Linked DNA regions of Homo sapiens: region 2 is linked to region 1. The links come from fine-mapping of genetic effects on gene expression. A gene starts in region 1. The other region holds a variant in brackets. All regions are shown on one strand. Distances are from middle to middle.

Evidence for each region.
Region 2: its variant is fine-mapped to the expression of GGA1 in whole blood (TOPMed, PIP above 0.99). The same link has a PIP of 0.9 or more in blood mononuclear cells.

Annotation. Positions count from the first base shown.
Region 1 is chr22:37,602,439-37,613,432 of GRCh38, forward strand. It overlaps GGA1 (golgi associated, gamma adaptin ear containing, ARF binding protein 1), which reads left to right and starts at 6,396. Exons shown (of 17, transcript NM_013365.5): 1 at 6,396-6,465. The coding sequence starts at 6,423. RefSeq lists a cis regulatory region at 4,572-5,031, enhancers at 5,776-5,855, 6,006-6,175, 6,780-7,401, 7,116-7,225 and a silencer at 6,336-6,785.
Region 2 is chr22:37,628,425-37,636,424 of GRCh38, forward strand. It overlaps GGA1 (golgi associated, gamma adaptin ear containing, ARF binding protein 1), which reads left to right. Exons shown (of 17, transcript NM_013365.5): 12 at 1,038-1,102; 13 at 1,574-1,746; 14 at 2,479-2,675; 15 at 3,572-3,741; 16 at 3,981-4,091; 17 at 4,177-5,140. The coding sequence ends at 4,287. Among named protein-coding and RNA genes, the nearest start is that of SH3BP1, 7.2 kb to the right of the region's middle. RefSeq lists enhancers at 4,314-4,373, 4,554-4,613, 4,880-5,753, 4,974-5,133, 5,914-6,003. The variant A/G (reference allele first, on the strand shown) is at 3,642.

The DNA.
Region 1 (10,994 bases):
TGTGCCCAGCCTCTCCAAGGGGCTTTTACATGGTGGTCACCCAGAGAAAACCAGCAGGGTAGAGCCTGCAGCACCTTGGAAATCAAGCAGAACTTGGCCCCAGCTCCCCATTTATGGCTTCAGGCAAGAGTTTCTGTAACCTCACTGGCCCTCTACTTTCCTCCTCTGTAATTTGAGAAGACTAATAACTATCTTAAAGTACTGGTATGATATAAATGAAAAAGCCATGGCACATAATGGATGAGTCAATAAATGGTAGCAAATTATCCTGATTTGGAATCAGATCAAAGGTAGTGAAATGAACTGTCACATGGGAGATTCCCACCTGCCCCCCAATCTTCCCAGGACATGGAAAAGCCCAATGAACAAATCCATTTCATTAGTGGCCACAGTCCCCTCACTCCCACCCTGAAATGGCCCAGATTTCCCTTGCAGCAGATTTTTTTTTTTTTTTTTTGAGATCTCACTCTGTTGCCCAGGTTGAAGTGCAGTGGCATAATCATGGCTCACTGTAGCCTCAACCTCCTGGACTTAATCCATCCTCCCACCTCAGCCTCCCTAGTAGCTGGGGCCACTGGCAGGCGCCATCATGCCTCGCTAATTTTTTTTTTTTGAGACAGAGTCTCACTGTGTTGTCCAGGCTGGAGTGCAGTGGCACAATCTCAGCTCACTGCAACCTCCGCCTCCCAGGTTTCAAGCAATTCTCCTGCCTCAGCCTCCCAGATAGCTGGGATTACAGGCATGCATTACCAAGCCCGGCTAATTTTTTGTATTTTTAGTAGAGATGGGGTTTCACCATATTGGCCAGGCTGGTCTCGAATTTCTGACCTCAGGTGATCTGCCCACCTCGGCCTCCCAAAGTGCTGGGATTACAGGAGTAAGCCACTGTGCCTGGCCATGCCTGGCTAATTTTTTAAATTTTTTGTAGAGACGGGGTCTTGCTGACCTTGTAGCAGGTCTTATTTTTGCTGTCCCATTGTTTCAGGCAATCTAGATTTTGGGGGAAAGGCTTAACTGCAAACAACCAATGAGATAATCTTCTGTAACACAGGCATTTATATATTTGTACTGAATTATATTTCTTTTCATCTTAAACATCATTTTCTTTTTTAATTTTATTTATAATAAATAAATATTTATTATAATTTTTTTTTTTTTTTTTTGGAGACGGAGTCTCGCTCTGTCACCCAGGCTGGAGTGCAGTGGTGTGATCTTGGCTCACTGCAACCTCCGCCTCCCGGGTTCAAGCGATTCTCCTGCCTCAGCCTCCTGAGTAGCTGGGATTACAGGCTTACACCACCACGCCCAGCTAATTAGTAGAAACGAGGTTTCACCATGTCGGTCAGGCTGGTCTTGAACTCCTGACCTCGTGATCCACCCACCTCGGCCTCCCAAAGTGCTGGGATTACAGGTGTGAGCCACTGCACCCAGCCAACATGATTCTTTTCAATTAAGATAATTTATTAAATTCACCGGGAAATAGAGCTAAATTTTAATACTTTGTGAGCCTTTTATTGTGTAAATTCACACATTTTGGCAATGATGTTGGTTACACCACTTGGCCCAGATCGGATTCAGAAAATAGAGCCCTTCTCCCTGTCCCCTGCACACATACATGAGGAGTTGAATACATCCATTCCGTAGGCTCTGTCATCTTTCTGATGTCTGCTCTCTCCCAGTCAGCAGCAGCATCTGGAATCATGGCTCCTGGGATCATGCATGAACTTTGGGTGCAGAGAATCAAGCTTGAGTTCAAATTCTGCTTTCTGTCTTCTTAGCTGTGTGACCTCAGGACCTTTGCACTTGCTGTCTGCGTAGTCACCCTTTCTACCGCTGGCTCCTTCTCAGCTTAAATATCAACTCCAACAGGCCTGTCCAGGCCACTTCCCATATGGCCTCTACTCTCTCACACTAGCCCACTTGGGTCCCTTCGTAATTACCTCCATGTGCTTTGTTTGCTTCCGTGTTTTCTTTTTTTATTCTTTTTTTTTTTTTTTTGAGACTGAGTCTTATTCTGTTGCCCGGGCTGGAGTGCAGTGGCGCAATTTTGGCTCACTGCAACCTCTGCCTCTTGGGTTCAAGCAATTCTCCTGCCTCAGCCTCTTGAGTAGCTGGGACTACAGGCACGCGCCACCACGCCCAGCTAATTTTTTGTATTTTTAGTAGAGACGGGGTTTCACCATGTTTGCCAGGACGGTCTCAATCTCCTGACCTCGTGATCCGTCCGCCTCTGCCTGGCAAAGTGCTGGGATTACAGGCTTGAGCCACTAGCCTTTTTTTTTTTTTTTTTTTTTGAGATGGAGTCTCACTCTGTCGCCCAGGCTGGAGTGCAGTGGCGCGATCTCAGCTCACTGCAACCTCCCAGGTTCAAGGAATTCTTGTGCCTCAGCTTCGCAAGTATCTGGGATTACAGGTGCATACCACCACACCTGGCTAATTTTTGTATTTTTAGTAGAGATGGGGTTTCACCATGTTGAGCAGGCTGGTCTCAAACTCCTGACCTCAAGTGATCTACCCGTCTTGGCCTCCCAAAATGCTGGGATTGTAGGCTTGAGCCACCCCGCCCAGCCTGCTTCTGTGCTTTCCATCCTTTGAAGGCAGGGACTTGCTCTGATGTGGGCTCTTGTGATGGAGACACGTGGGGGCCTTGGCCAACCACATCCTTGCTCAGAGTCTCAGATTTCTCATCTGTAAAACAGGAAGAATAGAATTCAACTCTGAGGTCTGTGGGAATATTAAAGGCGACAATGACAACCATGGTCCTCTGTGCCCCCCTCCCCTGAGGTTCCCATGCCCGGAAGGGACATGCAGGATCTGACTGGAGTCACAGGGGCTGAGGCTGGGGCCACGCCTCAGTTTGTTTCCTGAACCTTCTACAATCCTCCTCCAAGAAAGAATTGCATGTCCTCCCCCATATCTCTCCTCCAAGTTTGCAAGGATGCCCATCTCCCCAGCTCCTATTCCCTCGCCCCAGCCCTCCCTCACCAACGTTTCCAGTGTTCCAGGGGTTTTCTTAGGAAGGAGCTGAGGTGTTAAATCCTTAGAGGTCGGCATGGCTTAGGTGATTATAGCTGAGCTTTACCTGCCCTTCTCAGGGGTTCCTCAAGTCTCTCAAAGCAACACATTTGCTCATGGTGGGGAATGGGTGGGAACGGCTGCCACAGGCATTTCCTCCAAGTTTCCCGTGTTGGTCCTCCTTCCTTTCACCATCTTTAGGTTCCTCCTACCGTACCTCCTACCCTGATCCCCAGTTTGGGCCAGGCCCTTCACGCATAGACACAGCTCCTGAGTCTACCTTATCACGCCCTGCTCCCCAGAACTCAGAGGGACAGCCTAGAGCCTTTGTTACAAGCACAGCCTGGCTCGCCTCTCCAAACCCCCATACTCACTGTGCAATGTTGGGCATATTCATTCATTTATTTGATGCATATTTATTGAATACTTATTGTGTAACAGTTACTGTTTTAGGGCTTGGGGATATATTATTAGTGAAGTAACTAAATAAAATCCATTGCCGTGGTGGAGCTTACATTCTGGTGGGGGAGAGAGACACAAAACACAACAAAGAAATGAAATATGTAGTGGAGATAAGTGCTAAGGAGAAAAGTTCAGCAGAAAAGGTGGTAGGGAACATGTGGTAGGGGATTAATTTTGCAGACACACTTGTTCAAGATCATCCAGAAAGCAGTGAAGTCAGAATTTGCACCTAAATCAAATCTATTTTGTCTTTAAAAGTGACTCCTGACAGCACAGACATGTCCCTAAATGAATGCAGTAAATGCGATGTGAGTTTTATTTCAGTAATAATTCATCTCAGGCTGGGCGTGGTGGCTCACGCCTGTAATCCAAACACTTTGGGTGGTCAAGGCAGGTGGATCACCTGAGGTCAGGGGTTCGAGACCCGCCTGGCCAACATGGCGAAACCCTGTCTCTACTAAAAATACAAAAATTAGCCAGGCATGATGGCGCATGCCTGTAATCCCAGCAACTCAGGAGGCTGAGGCAGGGGAATCGCTTGAACCCAGGAAGCAGAGGTTGCAGTGAGCTGAGATCGTGCCACTGCACTCTAGCCTGGGCGACAGAGTAAAACTCTGTCTCAAAAATAAATATAATAGGCTGGGCGCAGTGGTTCATACCTGTAATCCCAGCACTTTGGGAGGCTCAGGCGGGTGGATTACTTGAGGTCCAGAGTTCGAGACCAGCCTGGCCAACATGGTGAAACCCCGTCTCTACTAAAAATATGAAAAAATTAGCCGGGCGTGGTGGCAGGCGCCGGTAATCCCAGCTACTCGGGAGGGTGAGGGAGGAAAATCACTTGAACCCGGGAGGCAGAGGTTGTGGTGAGCTGAGATCGCGTCACTGCACTCCGGCCTGGGCGACAGAGAGAGACTCCGTCTCAAAAATAAAATAAAATAAAAAAATATATATAATTCATTTCAGTAGTAAAAGACATAAACAAAAAGCTATAAGTATACACTACGTTACAGCTTTTGTTGAGGAATGCAATAAACATACATATCACTTCCCTGTATAATCTCAATGGCCTTTGGGAGAGAATTTAGAAAAGCATCCCAGTCGCTGAATGGTTGAGTTTAGGGGAAAAACTGACCCAGCACAGCCCCCTCATCTCCTGGATGAGGTTACTGCGGTTCCGCAAGGTGAATCGAGGTCAGTCGCCAAGGCAGAACCGGATTCGCCAGATTCCCTAGTCTCAGTGGAGCTTTAACCCTCCCAGGCACAGGACCGCTGGAGAGGTCGCCACGGGCCGGTTTCCCAGCCGGCCGCGAGGGGGCGACAGAGTGCAATGGACCCAGGTGAGTCGGGGACCAGGCGCCGCCAGGTCGTGACGCCACAAGGTGAGGGAGGTCTTTGATGGAGGGAGATACAGGAGAAAAGGCGCCGAGCTTAGGAAGTCTGTTCGTACTGTCCTCCCCGATTCCAGTCTGGCTCCCACTGCTATCTTCCTCCCACTGCTGGACCCTTCTAAAACAAAAGCCTGACTTTGCTACCATCCGTAAAACTGTAACGACACCTCCAACGTTGCTTACAGGGAAAAAAAAAAAAAAGGGCAGCAAAACATGGGACCTGGGTGATCTTGCCCCAGCCTAATTCCAAGATATCTCCTGCAAATAGATATCTATTTGCAGATATCTGGGAGCCGTATTGAAATACTTCCAACTCCCTGGACTCATCCTACTTTTTTTTTTTTTTTTTTTTTTGAGACTGAGTCTCGCTATGCCGCCCAGGCTGGAGTGCAGTGACGCAATCTCGGCTCACTGCAACCTTCACCTCCCGGGTTCAAGCGATTCTTCTGCCTCAGCCTTCTAAGTAGCTGGCACTAAAGGCGCGCCCAGATAATTTTTTTTTTTTTTTTTTTTTAGTAGAGACGGGGTTTCACCGTGTTAGGATGGTTTCGATCTCCTGACCTCGTGATCCGCCCTCCTCGGCCTTCATCCTACTTTTTCTCCCTGAATATCTTTTCGCACCAGCTCTACGTGGAGAAATCCGACTGTCTTTGAGCGAAGTACAGTATCACTTTCTCTTGAAACCTCCCCTGACACGACCCCTCCCCTGACACGACCCCTCCCCTGACAACACCCCCACCCACCCCACCCCAGTTTGGGGGAGGAGCCCCCTCCTTTGTTCCCACTACCCCGTGGGCTTCCCCTATCACACTGTAATAAATATCTGGCCTTGTCTATCTCCTTCTGTGCCCATCACAGAGCAAAGCAAATACAAAGAGTTCATTAAACGTTGGCTGGATGAATGGAGGAGACGGCACAGGGTTCAAGCTCTGCTACTTGTGCGGCCTCAGGCCGACTAATTATCTGGTGGGTTTGTTGTAAGGAGTCAGAACTAAATGGATTAATTACAAATAGTGCTTAGGACAATGCCCAGAATACTGTAAGCACTCAAGAAACTGATTTATTTTCGTCATTTTCACAGCGGCCAAGGTACATGAGGATGTAGCTTATCGCCCTTTTAAGGGACTCTCCCACGTTCGACTCTAAGCGGAAGTACCCGCTCAGGGCTCCGGAAGTGGCCTCAGAGCCCCTCAGCAACATGCCCGCAGAGAATTCTTCCGGAGGCGGTCACAGACATCTCCGTGACGCAGAACGAGTTAGAGCGTCCCTTGGGGTTTCCATGGTGCTGCCCTTAGCCTGCAGTATCTCCACTTCCTCTCCCGCCTGAGCGCCGGGAACGGAAAAGCAGGCGGCCGGTCCCAGCTGCGACGTAGACGCCGCGTGGGGGTGGGGTTGGGCGAGTAGGTGACGCTCTAGGCGAGCTCGTTGGCCTCTCTATGGTGCCGAGCGCGCCCGTTCGGACGTTGCCCCTTTAATCGGCAGAGGGCGGTGCCCAGGAGGTCCCGCGAGAGCTGCGGGGGGCGGGGGGGCGGTGCCGAGGCTGGGGGCCGGTGGCGGATGGAGCCCGCGATGGAGCCGGAGACTCTGGAGGCGCGAATCAGTGAGTGTCCGGGAGGGGCGCGGGCCGGACCGGAACCGGAACCGGGGGCACGAGGCGGGCCCCTTCCCGGCGGGGGCGGGGTACGGGTCGCCCCCTCCTCACGCCCCGCCCCCGGCCCGGGAGGGGCGGTGTCCTCAGTCGGCCCCTCAGACCCTGGAGCGATGGAGGACCCCGGCCCCGGCGCGGTCCAGCGGTGGGAGCGGGCGCCGCCCACCTGTCGGATCCCTGGGCCATGACCCCTGGGACGGCGAGTGAGCTGCGCCGGGAACCCCCGGGACGGAGAGAGCAGCCTCCAACCCCCAAGGCTCACATTGCTTCACGGAGTAGCGGCCCGGGGAAGGAGCACGCGAGCGGTTCCCCGGGGTTGCATCTCACACCCGGGAGGGAGGGACCCTACTATTTTCAGGCCCCGAATCCTCCACTCTCTGGCCCTGCATGGCGTTCCTGGAGCCCGCAAGTAGTCACATTTGCTCATTACCCCGTCCTGGAAGGGAGGACCCACTGCCCCATTTGATTCCTCCCGCCGCTCCTAGTCTCTAGCCACATAGTGAGAAACCCCCGCACCCTACAGGCTTGGGAGAGTCTTAGACTCCAGAAGTATTAATAATTCCAAGCTCCCTGTCACTCCCTTCAGCCTAACCCCTCAGTCTCCAAGATGCCTTTCCCAGCTCTTGCTGAACTTCCTTCAAAGGCTTCTACACCCCTTTTTTTCTTGTTTCTCCTCAGACGTAGCTTCCTATTGCTTAGGCTTCCTAGCCCGCAAACCCTCCACCTGAGCTCCTTAACCCACAGCCCTGATGATCCCCTGCTCTCACAGCCCCGCTCCTGGACTCTGCCTCTGAAAGCCGTGGCTGGCTTCTCCCTGGTCTAGTGAGGGTTCTCTCCCAAGGCTTTAACTGCTGTTGGGACCCCGTCGTTGCCAGGGCCTCAGGGAACCCTCTTGGACCCGGGCACACCGGCAACTGTCTAGCGTGGTTTGGGGTCATGGCCGGCCCCTTTTAAGCCAGGCTTGAGCAGAGTTGAACCATGAGGTTGGCCCCAGAACCAAACCTCTAGGGATGTTTCAGAGTCATCCTAGCCACCAGAGGGGCAGGGGGTGGAAAAGGGGCACTCAGCAGCCCTTGACCGTTGTGAACGCCGGAAGTGTCCGCCTGGGTCTCAGCAGCAACTGGGCTGGGGGGATGGGTGGGCCCCTGGCTAACTGATCTCAGACACAGGTCTTGAGCTGTGGGTCATACAAAACATTCTCAGGTTTAGAAACAGTGGGGGTTTTCTGAGAGTCCAGAGAGTCTAAAACCAGGCAGAAGTTAGAGATACCTGGGTTTGGCTGGGCCCTGACACACTGGGGCTGGGATTTTCTCCTTTCCTTCCCCCTTTGTGTCCTAGCAGAATTGTAAGATCTTTCCTCTTCCCTTGTGGAGGCTGGAGGTAAAGGATAGCTTCTTCTTTTTTTTTTTGAGACGGGTTTTCACTCTTGTCACCCAGGCTGGAGTGCAGTGGCACAATCTCAGCTCTCTGCAACCTCCACCTCCCGGGTTCAAGTGATTCTCCTGTCTCAGCCTCCCGAGTAGCTGGAATTACAGGTGCGCCACCACGCCCAGCTATTTTTGTATTTTTAGTACAGGTGGGCTTTCACCATGTTGGCCAGGCTGATCTCGAACTCCTGACCTCAGGTGATCCGCCTATATAGGCCTCTCAAAGTGTTGGGATTACAGGCGTTAGCCACTCATCCGCCCACGTCGGCCTCTCAAAGTGTTGGGATTACAGGCGTGAGCCACCGCGCCCGGCCTAGTGAGGTAAATGATGTTATTGTCAGCACTATAGAGTGGCAGGGTGGAGTCTTACCCTGTTGTGAAACACCTCCCTCCCTCTCTAGGTGTTCTCCCCAACTGCCTGCTAGGGAGGGTACTCCCCTCAGGTAGAATTAAGAGGGCTGAGGGTCAGGGGCCATGGGCCAAGGAGGTCAGTCAGATCTCCTTGGATCTGGAGGCCCTGGCTTTCAGCCAGAGGCAGGGGGAGAAAGATGATGTCTCATGATGCCAGCGCTTCCTCTTCACTGGCGTCTGACCCAGGAGCAGTCCAGAATCAGCTTCTCTGACCTCACTCCAACTCACGTGTCTTTGACACTTTAAGGGACTTCCTGTTTTAGGGTCTTCTGGCTGGGTGTCATTGAATGGGCAGTGATTCTCTAACTTTAGACTGATGTTCCCCAGCCTTTGTTTGGGGACTCGGAGGCAGAGTAGACAGTTACCCTTACCCCTGGGTTGGGGAGGGTCATATTCCTGGTATCCCCAGGAGGTCAACAGGGGCTTCATTTTTCTGAGGGACTAGAGGGTCTTGTGGAGCTCCTGGGACAGAGATCTAGATCCAGAGAGAACATTCGTCCTTCCGATCTCAGCTCAGCTCTGAGAGCCCTCCCAGAGAGCAGCTCCCGAGGGCTCCAGAGCCCTCCGAAAGCCCTCCCAGAGAGCAGCCCCCACCTCCCAGGCTGTCTGCACTTCTCCTTGCTATGCTTTGCTCTGTAACATTTTGCAACAGTCTGCAGTACACGGGGTTTGTTAATCTGAGTATTCATTGTTTCTCTTGCTGGGCAGTGAACTTGAGGAGGGCAGGGATTTTGTCTGTTCACTGCTGGAGCCCCAGCACCCAGAATACTTAAATCTGAGTTGGATGAATGGCGGCCAGCCACTGGGATTCCAGGGCTTTGGGCCCCCTGCCATAACATATGGCCCAGGGCAGGCGCCACATGCTGGGTCAGTCCCCAGCCTCCTGTCCACAGATCCTTCTCTGTTCTACCTCCTGGGCTGTGTCCTTCCACACCCTCAGCTCGGTGCTCAGGCGTGGGCAGAACTGGCTGGGAAGGGGTGGTCCTTAGAGGTGGGCTGTGGAGAAATGAAGATCGAGCTCTGGCTGCCGCCATGGCCTTCCCATGCAAAAAGTATTTTGTCATCCAAAATCAATATTTTGGTCAGGCACAGTGGCTCATGCCTGTAATCCCAGCACTTTGGGTGGCCGAGGTGGGTGGATCATTTGAGGTCAGGAGTTTGAGACCAGCCTGACCAACATGGTGAAATTCCATCTCTACCAAAAATACAAAAAAATTAGCTGGGCATGGTGGTGGACGCCTGTGATCCCAGCTACTCTCAGGAGGCTGAAGCAGGAGAATCGTTTGAACCCAGGAAGCTGAGATTGCAGTGAGCCGAGATCTCGCCACTGCACTCCAGCCTGGGCAACAAAGCAAGACTCTTTCTCAAAAAAAAATAAAAATAAAAAAATACAGGCCGGACGCAGTGGCTCACACCTGTAATTCCAGTACTTTGGGAGGCCGAGGCAGGTGGATCACGAGGTTAGGAGATCAAGACCATCCTGGCTAACACAGTGAAACCCCGTCTCTACTAAAAATACAAAAAAAAAAAAAATTAGCCGGGCGTGGTGGCGGGCACCTGTAGTCCCAGCTACTCGGGAGGCTGAGGCAGGAGAATGGCGTGAACCTGGGAGGCAGAGTTTGCAGTCAGCCGAGATCACACCACTGCACTCCAGCCTGGGCGATAGAGCGAGACTCCGTCTCAAAAAAAAAAAAAAATACAGCCGGGCACGGTGGCTCACACCTGTAATCCCAGCACTTTGGGAGGCCAAGGTGGGCGGATCACAAGGTCAGGAGATTGAGACCATCCTGGCTAACATGGTGAAACCCTGTCTCTACTAAAAATACAAAAAAAAATTAGCCGGGCGTGGTGGCGGGTGCCTGTAGTCCCAGCTACTCGGGAGGCTGAGGAAGGAGAATGGCATGAACCTGGGAGGCGGAGCTTGCAGTGAGCCGAGATCGTGCCACTGCACTCCAGCCTGGGCAACAGCGTGAGACTCGTCTCAAAAAAAAAAAAAAATCCATATTTCATTCCAGCTTTACAAGATGGGGAAATGGAGGTTCAGGGAAGCATGTAAGCTAGATTGTTGTTTAACCAGTATTGGGGGTTAAAGGGGTAGCTGTCTGGTCGTGTTTACACCACTTCATGTAGACCTGTTGGCCCTCTTTCCTTGCCACTATCCATTTCTGGATTCAGTCTTCCCCAGAACCTCACCCTTTGCCTGCCCTCAGCTGACTGCTCATTCATTTGCCAAGGGGAGACAGGTGTGGACATGAGTGGCTGGGATGCAGTGCCGTAGCAGGCTGGGGGACACAAAAGAGAACTGACCCAGCACTGCTACCCTGGGCAGGAGTAGAGGATTAGAGAAGGGGACACCGGAGCCACTCCCAAGGGAATGAAGGCTTTCTGAACCTGGTGTGATGGTAAGACTCACACTCCTTACTGAGGCCCCTCATTCTCTGCCTCGTGTGGTTACCCGCATCTTTCCTGCCCATACAGCCATGCGTGGGTCAGAGGTGTACCAGCTCCAGCCTGGGTGACTCCTCCTGGTCCCTGCTTGTGTGTTGCCTCTTCCAGGCAGCCTCCTCAGCCCCAAACTGAACTGAGTCCCCTCCTCTGTGTTTCTTTTTTGTTTGTTTGAGACGGAGTCACCCAGAGTCCCAG
Region 2 (8,000 bases), 24 kb after region 1:
TGTGTTCAAATGCTGGCAGTCAGGCCATGCTCTGTCTGAGTCCAGACTCTGCCACTTTCTAGCTGTGTGTTCTCGGGCAGGTTATTTACCAACTTTGAGTCCATTTTCTTATCCCTAAAAGAGGGCTGAGAAGCTCACCCCTACCTTTGAAGGTTGTTTGAGGATTAAGCAAGACCAGCATCTGAAGGGCCTGAAGCATCTAGGGCATCATCAGTGCACTTTATCTCTGGCCTCTAAGAAGTGCATCTAGAAGGGACCCACTGTCACAGCTTCCTGGTACCCTTGCCTTTGCCTGTCAGGTAGCACTTCGGTTTGGACCTCACTTTTTCAGGATTTGTTGGAAACAAGATCCCTTATCTTCTCTAGGTCAGATTTGGGGTGAACTTGGCTGACAGTATTCCAGGGCAGGCAGAGGTCAGGCTGGCTGGTGACCTGCTGCCTCCTTCCCATCGGCAGCTAGTTCTAGGGCCATCCACAGGGATCCCCAGCCCTCCATAGTACCAGTGAGCCTCACTGGCATGTGCCAGGGCCAAGAGGGCCTTCAGCGTCGCCTCCAGTCCAGCCCTGTCCTCGTATTCTTGGGGACACTGTGGCTCAGCCAGCACAGTGCCTAGCCCACAGTCACCCAGCAGGCGTCCCTCGAGTGGGCCAGTGGCAGGCACAGAGCTGCTCTCCCCTTGCCTGGATGCGTGAGGAAAGGAACCTCTTCTCCCTGCAGCCCAGCCCTGCAGGCTCTCTGCTGCCAGATGACGAGTGAAGATGAAAGTCCTGATGTCTATTGTCTGTGTGCACAGAGCTTTGGAGTGGCCTGGCCAGGAAGAGGGGAAGCGTGTGTGGGGTCAGCACAAGGGGTTGCCGGGATCTTGGTTACTGGTTCTGCTCTGCTGCTGGTTCCCTCTGAAAATGTGGGTTTCTCCCCTCCGTGCTGAGCCTCAGAAAGGGGTAGGGAGCCCCATGCCAGCACACATGGCCCCTCGGCTCTCTGGCCTCTGCAGGGTCAGCCCAGCTCCTTCACCTCTCTCCTGCTTTCCCCTCAGGCCTCAGTGACCCCACACCCCCTTCAGGCCCAAGCCTGGATGGTACCGGATGGAACAGCTTCCAGGTAGGAGGGGACCACAAACTAGTCTGGCCTGTCCCAGTCCCAGGGTCAGGGCAGCTGGGACAAGTGGCCTGGAGAAACTAAAAGGATGGATGGGCTCTACTCAAGAGCCCAGGGCCAGGGGGTGGCCCAGGGGCCTGGAGACACCCACCCAGGGTACAGGGCCTCCCCTTACCTCCAGCTGTATCTTCCCCAAGTCTCAGCCTTGGGGCTGCAGCCCAGCCTTTGGGATTGGGATTGAGATGGGCAATCCCTCTTCCTTTCCCTTGAGGGTGACAGAGGTCCCTGGATTGTAGAACCCCCAACCAGACCCAGCCACCCTGCATCATGGACATGGGTGGTCTGGGGTCCCCACCTCTGTGGCTGCTTTCCCAGATGTCATTTGCAAGGAGGACACTGAGCCTCAGGGCAGGATCAGGTGATGCTGACACCTCTCTAGACAGCCCCACCCCACCTGCATCCTTTTCCCCACAGTCGTCGGATGCCACTGAGCCCCCAGCCCCTGCTCTGGCCCAGGCCCCCAGTATGGAAAGCCGACCCCCAGCGCAGACATCCCTGCCAGCAAGCAGCGGTCTGGACGACCTAGACCTCCTGGGGAAGACCCTCCTGCAGCAGTCGCTGCCCCCGGAATCCCAGCAAGTGCGGTGGTGAGGGCCCACCATGGCTGGCATGGGGTGGGGAGCACTCCCTGTTCCCACAAACCAGCAACTTCTCCTGGGCTTGTCCAGGCCCAGCAGGGAGAGGCTCGTTGCTGTCTTGTTTTGTAAGCAGCAGATGCCAAGCAGTGCACCTGCCTCTGGAAACACAACAGTGCCCAAGGCAGACCTGGGCCCACTGGCCTGGCCTCCCCCCAGGTGTTCCCAGCTCCCTTGAGAAAGGTCCAGAGGGCCGGCAGAGGGGAGGACACTGGGCTGGAGTGAATAGGTGGGGTGCAGGGTGGAGGGAGAACACGAGCTGCTCCTTCTAAAGGTAAGACCCAAGGCCAGAGAGATAGCCACACGTGCCAGCCTTTCCTGTGCCCCTGATCTCTCCATCACCAAAGAATCACTTTTTCTTTTTTTGAGAGGGAGTCTCACCCTGTCACCCAGGCTGGAGTACAGTGGCATGATCTCGGCTCACTGCAACCTCCATCTCCCAAACTCAAGCGATTCTCCTACGTCAGGCTCCTGAGTAGCTGGGACCACAGGTGTGCGCTACCACGCCCAGCTAGTTTTTTGTATTTTTTATACAGACCGGGTTTCGCCATGTTGCCCAGGCTGGTCTCAAACTCCTGAGCTCAAGCGATCTGCCCGCCTCAGCCTCCCAAAGTGTTGGAATTACAGGGGTGAGCTACCACGCTGGCCAAGAATCACTTCTTAATGCACTGTCCCCCGATTAAGGGAGAAGCAGCAGCCAACCCCCCGGCTCACACTCCGGGACCTGCAGAATAAGAGCAGCAGCTGCAGCTCCCCCAGCTCCAGCGCCACCAGCCTTCTCCACACCGTGTCCCCAGAGCCCCCCAGGCCTCCGCAGCAGCCCGTACCAACCGAGCTCTCACTGGCCAGCATCACTGTGCCCCTGGAGTCCATCAAACCCAGTGAGTAGGGCTGGGGCAGGTGCAGGCTGGGTTGGGTCAGCTTGCTGCCCTGTCAGGAGCTCTGTCTGGGGAAGCTAGTGGGAAAGCAGGGCTCCCCTGGCTCTGCCACTGGCCAACCAGAGGGGAGCTCTGAACAAGGCCCTCCCCTTCCCAGGAGTCAGTTTCCTTATCTGCCCCAGAGCAATCAGAGGACTGCTGTACAAACTCCAGGCTTATATAAGCAAGAAGACCTCTAGGGAGTAGGCTCTGGGCCCCTTCCATCCCCAGGAAGGCAGGGCCCAGGACACAGAGAGGTTTGGGGTCTCCCCCAGATTACAGAACTGAACCATGATAAAGACCCAGATCCAAGGCTGGGTTTTTCCAGCCCAGGAGCAGTAAGGGGACCATGGCCCAGCCCCGGGCCCCAAGCAGACACATGAGGCCTGGTGGTCCTCAGCATTGCCCTCTATGAGCTCCCTGTGACCAAAGACACTACCCCCACAGTGTCTCCCAGCAGTGGGCAGAGCTGCCCCTCTCACCAGTAGGAGAACCCTGAGCTCAGAGAAGGGGAGTGACTGCCGCAAGGTCACACAGCGTGAGACTCACCCTCACCAAGTCCCTCACCCCAGCACTCCAGGCAGCAGCCACACAGCATCGGGGGAAGCTGGGCTGTGACTCGGCTCTGGGGTGGGTGTCCTGCCTCCACTATCAGACTGGGGGTTCACCTGCCCTCTCTGGGCACCGCTCTGTGCCCCTGCCTGCACTGCCACCCAGGGTCCAGGTAAGGCCCCAAAGGAGGACTTTGCTCTTGTTGCCAGTACAGCAGCCAGCTCCTGAGGCCAGCCGGGTGGGGGCTGGGGGCTGAGCGGATGTGCTGCAGCTCAGCTGTCCCATCGCCCTCCCACCTTCTCCCACAGGCAACATCCTGCCCGTGACTGTGTATGACCAGCACGGCTTCCGCATCCTCTTCCATTTTGCCCGGGACCC[A/G]CTGCCAGGGCGCTCCGACGTGCTGGTGGTGGTGGTTTCCATGCTGAGCACCGCCCCCCAGCCCATCCGCAACATCGTGTTCCAGTCAGCTGTCCCCAAGGTGACAAGCCAGTCGGACAGGGCATGCCTCCCTCCTCTCAAGGCAGGGTGACATGGAGCTGGGTGGGGAGCCACCTGTCAGGGGGCAGGTCTCCCTCCCTTGCTGGGTGGTTGGTGTAGAAGGGACCAGAAGGACTGAGCCCCAGGATCCCCGGAGGGGAGCTGGCAGGCTGGGCCTGGTTCCTCAGAGCAGGACAAGCAGCCAGGGCTAGCTGTGCCCATCCTGCCATCTGCCCACAGGTTATGAAGGTGAAGCTGCAGCCACCCTCGGGCACGGAGCTGCCAGCTTTTAACCCCATCGTCCACCCCTCAGCAATCACCCAGGTCCTGCTGCTTGCCAACCCCCAGAAGGTAAGGGGCCCCCAGGCAGTGCTGCAGGGTGGGGACGGCCACTTCTCCTCCTCTGACCCCTCTGCCTTTGCCATCTCTTCCCCAGGAGAAGGTTCGCCTCCGCTACAAGCTCACCTTCACCATGGGTGACCAGACCTACAACGAGATGGGGGATGTGGACCAGTTCCCCCCACCTGAAACCTGGGGTAGCCTCTAGAACAGAGGGGCTGGGGAGAGGAAGGGGCAGAGGGACCGGTCACTGTCCAGCCTGGAGGGAGGCATTGGTGGCCAAGGACACCCTTTGTTGCCCATGGCCATTCACCCCCAGGCCTGGTGCTTCTCCCCACACCCCTGTAGGCCTCAAGTGACTCTTCCCCCTCCTGCTCCGGCCCCGCCCCTGCTGAGCCAAACCCAGTAGGAGGCTGGGCCTGGGTTTGTGCCGCTGGGGTCTCCATCACCGGGACCTGGAGAGGGAGGGGCTGTGTAGCCTTGGAAGAACTTGGGTCATGGGGAGGAAGCACAGCTGTTGGGGAAGGGCCAGGACCTCAGGCCCAGCCCCAACCCCAGCTGGGGTGGGGTCTTCCCCACCTGTCTCTTATGCCTTATGGGAAGGCCCAGCCATAACTCGGGGGCCATGCTGGAGCTGGGGACCAGCTTAGGCCTCCTCCATAGGAACCCAGTGACTGGGGGGTGACGCCTACACCCCCAGCTATTTGCACTCTGGTGTGTGGTTTGACTCTGCTTTTCTTCCGGATTGGCCCTGTGGTCACAGCCTCAGGGGGCCAGGCTGGGGGAACCTCACCTGGCCCGTACTCCTGGGGGTTTCCCTTTGCCATTGGGCCCCCTGAGGGACTGTGGGGGCTCAAGGGTAATGCCAGAGGCCCATGGCCCCAGCGAGGGGCTGTGGGGCACCTAGAGTTCTCGGTGTGTCTCCTTCATTCATTGGCCTCTGCTGGGGCCTCCTATGGGTGTCTTACGTCTGTCCATCCATCTGTCCGTGGTCAGAAGTGGGGTCAGTGTGTGAGTGAGAGCAGGAGTATTTATGAAAATAAAACGTCGTTTTTCCTGGACCAGCTGCTCTCGTGGCCCTTTGGAGGTTGAGGGAGATGGGAGGGGTTGAGTCCATGTTCCCTAGGGCTGCCCTGTAGACCTCTCCACTTCCGTCTTTGGAGGTCAGGCCGTGGGCCCCCTCCCCACCACCCCCCGGGCCCTGCACCGGAAAAGGCCCTGCAAAGGGGCCTGTGGCCAGTGCTGAGTCACCAGAGAGGGCGCTGGGCTGTGGCGGACCAGGACCGTCCCAGCTGGAAGTGGGCGACCGCCAGGGCCTGGCAGGAGCCCCAGCTGCTACAGACACCGAGGGGGAGGCCCCTGGCTGCTCACGACTTCCTCCTGCTGTGCTCAGCCCTCCACACAACCTCGATGCTGCAGCACCCCAGAGGGAAGTCCAAGCCCAGCTTCTCCCTCCCCCCAGACATCACTCCCTTGCCCAGCACCAATCGCAGTTTGTTTGGGAGCAGACCCAGGGACCCTGAGCTGGGCCCCTGCCACTCGCAGCGGCAGCTCTCCCCCACACAGTGCTATCAGTTTTCTCCAACCAGGAGGCTGGGGTCCAAGCTTGGGCGTGGCTTCGAGGCCACACAGCTGGGAGCGAGGGGGCGCTGGTCCAGGCAGATGGGCCCTGTTGTGTGGGAGGCCAGCCCTGCGTGTGGCTCTGCAGGAAAGTGTTCCCTGCTCAGATGAGTCCAGGGAGGCTGCGCACGGTTTCTCCTGAGTAGATGAGCCCATACAGACCCTGGGAAGTCCCTCATTTAAGAAGCCATTTTCACTTTGTCTAATCTAGTGTTTCCCAATCTGAACTTGGCCGCTGAACCCTTCTCCTTAGATATAGTTGTGACATGCTGGAGAATTGCCCAGCACACCCGCATCCCAGCGTGTGTGCTCTTTAACACTCATCAGCAAGCAAGGGGCCCCTCTCTGCTGGGCCCACACTGAAAGCGCAGGCTGAGAGCTCCTCCATGTCCGCCTTACTGCTGAGGGGACAAGAGGCATTAGCTGCACCCTGCGGGAGCCTCCTATCAGATCCCTACAGTGGGACTCCCACCCTGGCACAGCCCTCCAGACAGAGGCTGGCCCCTGGAGGCTTCCAGACACCCTGTCCCAGCCACGTGGCCTCGTTCCTGTTCCCCTTCCCTACCCTGCAGGACTCGCCTCCACACTTGTGATGTCTCCTGAAGATAACTCCGGTTGGAAGTTTCTTCTACCTGAAATGAAACCATAACCCCTGCAGCATCCACTTGGGGTGCCAGAGTCCCACCTCCAGCACAGTCTTCATTACTGGCCATGGCAGGGAGGAGTACAGGTTGGCATGGGGAACAGGTGGGACTGTGAGCTGGGAGTCTGGGGGCTGGTTCTGGCTGGGTCACTGGCTTGCTGTGTGATTTTGAGGAAGATGCTTTCCTTTCTGGAAAAGGGGAGAGGGACTCAATGAGCTATAAGGTCCCTCTGAGGAGTCCTTGGACAAAGGAGCCAGGCTGTCAGCTTTGGAGTGACCCAGGATATTCCGGGGACGGGAAGGTGGGGTCCCTTCAGCCTTTGGACCTTGTCCCTTGCCTTGTCCTTAACCCACCCATCCTGTCAGTCATGCCAGTGTTTCCTGAGCAGCCCCTGGGCCAGCCCCTGTCCTAAGAGTTCACAAGCTGGCAAGGACTTGGGAGCCAGTGTGGCACCCTGAGAGCAAAGACATAAGGTACCACAGAAGCCCTGCATCTGTCTGAGAGTCTGGGGTGGGTTCTAACCAGAGGAAAGGACCCTGGGCCTCCACTCCCTGGAGGAGTCCTTCCCCAAATACCGTGTTGCTGCACAGAGGTCCGGGCCACTGCGCTCTGCAGTCTCAGGGGCTGGGATGCAGTGCACTGGGGAGGCGTGTGCTCTGTCTCTTGAAGGGTGACCCCCAGTGCCATGCCAAGACCAGTGGGACTTCCCAGATCTCGAAGCCCCACTTCCATTTCTGTTGATTTGGCCGAGGCACCAGTTAATTTTGGTTTTCAGCAACCGCATCACACTGTTCGTCTGTTTATGGCAGCCAGGAGAAGTGGCAAGGGCCTGGGAGCCTGCTCCTGCCTAGTCGGTTTTTTGTTGTTGTTGTTTTTACGGAGTTTCGCTCTTGTTGCCCAGGCTGGAGTGCAATGGCACGATCTCGGCTCACCGCAACCTCTGCCTCCCGAGTTCAAGCGATTCTCCTGCCTCGGCCTCCCGAGTAGCTGGGATTACAGGCCTGCGCCACCACATCCTGCTAAGTTTGTATTTTTAGTAGAGACGGGGTTTCTCCATGTTGGTCAGGCTAACTCCCACCTAAGGTGATCCACCTGCCTTGGCCTCCCAAAGTGCTGAGATTACAGGCGTGAGCCACCACACCCGGCCCCCAGTCAGTTTTTTGGTTTTTTTGTTTGTTTGTTTGAGGTAAGGTCTCTCACCCAGGCTGGAGGGCAGTGTTGTAAACACAGCTCCCTGCAGCCCTGACCTCCTCGGCGCAGGCAATCCTACCCTCTTAGCCTCCTGAGCAGCTGGGACCACAGGCGCGTGCCACCATGCCCGGCTAATATTTTTATTTTTTGTATAGAGTTTCGCCAGGTTGCCCAGGCTGGTCTGGAACTCCTGAGCTCAAGCGATCCACCTGCCTCAGCCTCCCAAAGTGTTGTGGTGAGCTACTGTGCCTGGTCTGCCTGGTCTCTCGACATACCCCCTCCCCCAGTCTCTCTGGGCCTTGCAACCAGGGCACCAGCCCAGCAAGGCAGGCAAGAGGAGCCCCCGGACCTGATGCCTATAGCCTCCCATCTTAAGCCTCTGAAATGCCCTGTGAAATGGGAAGTGAGGCTCAGAGAAGTCACACATTATGGGCTGAGTCTGGGCCAGCAGTCTTGAGGTGTCTAC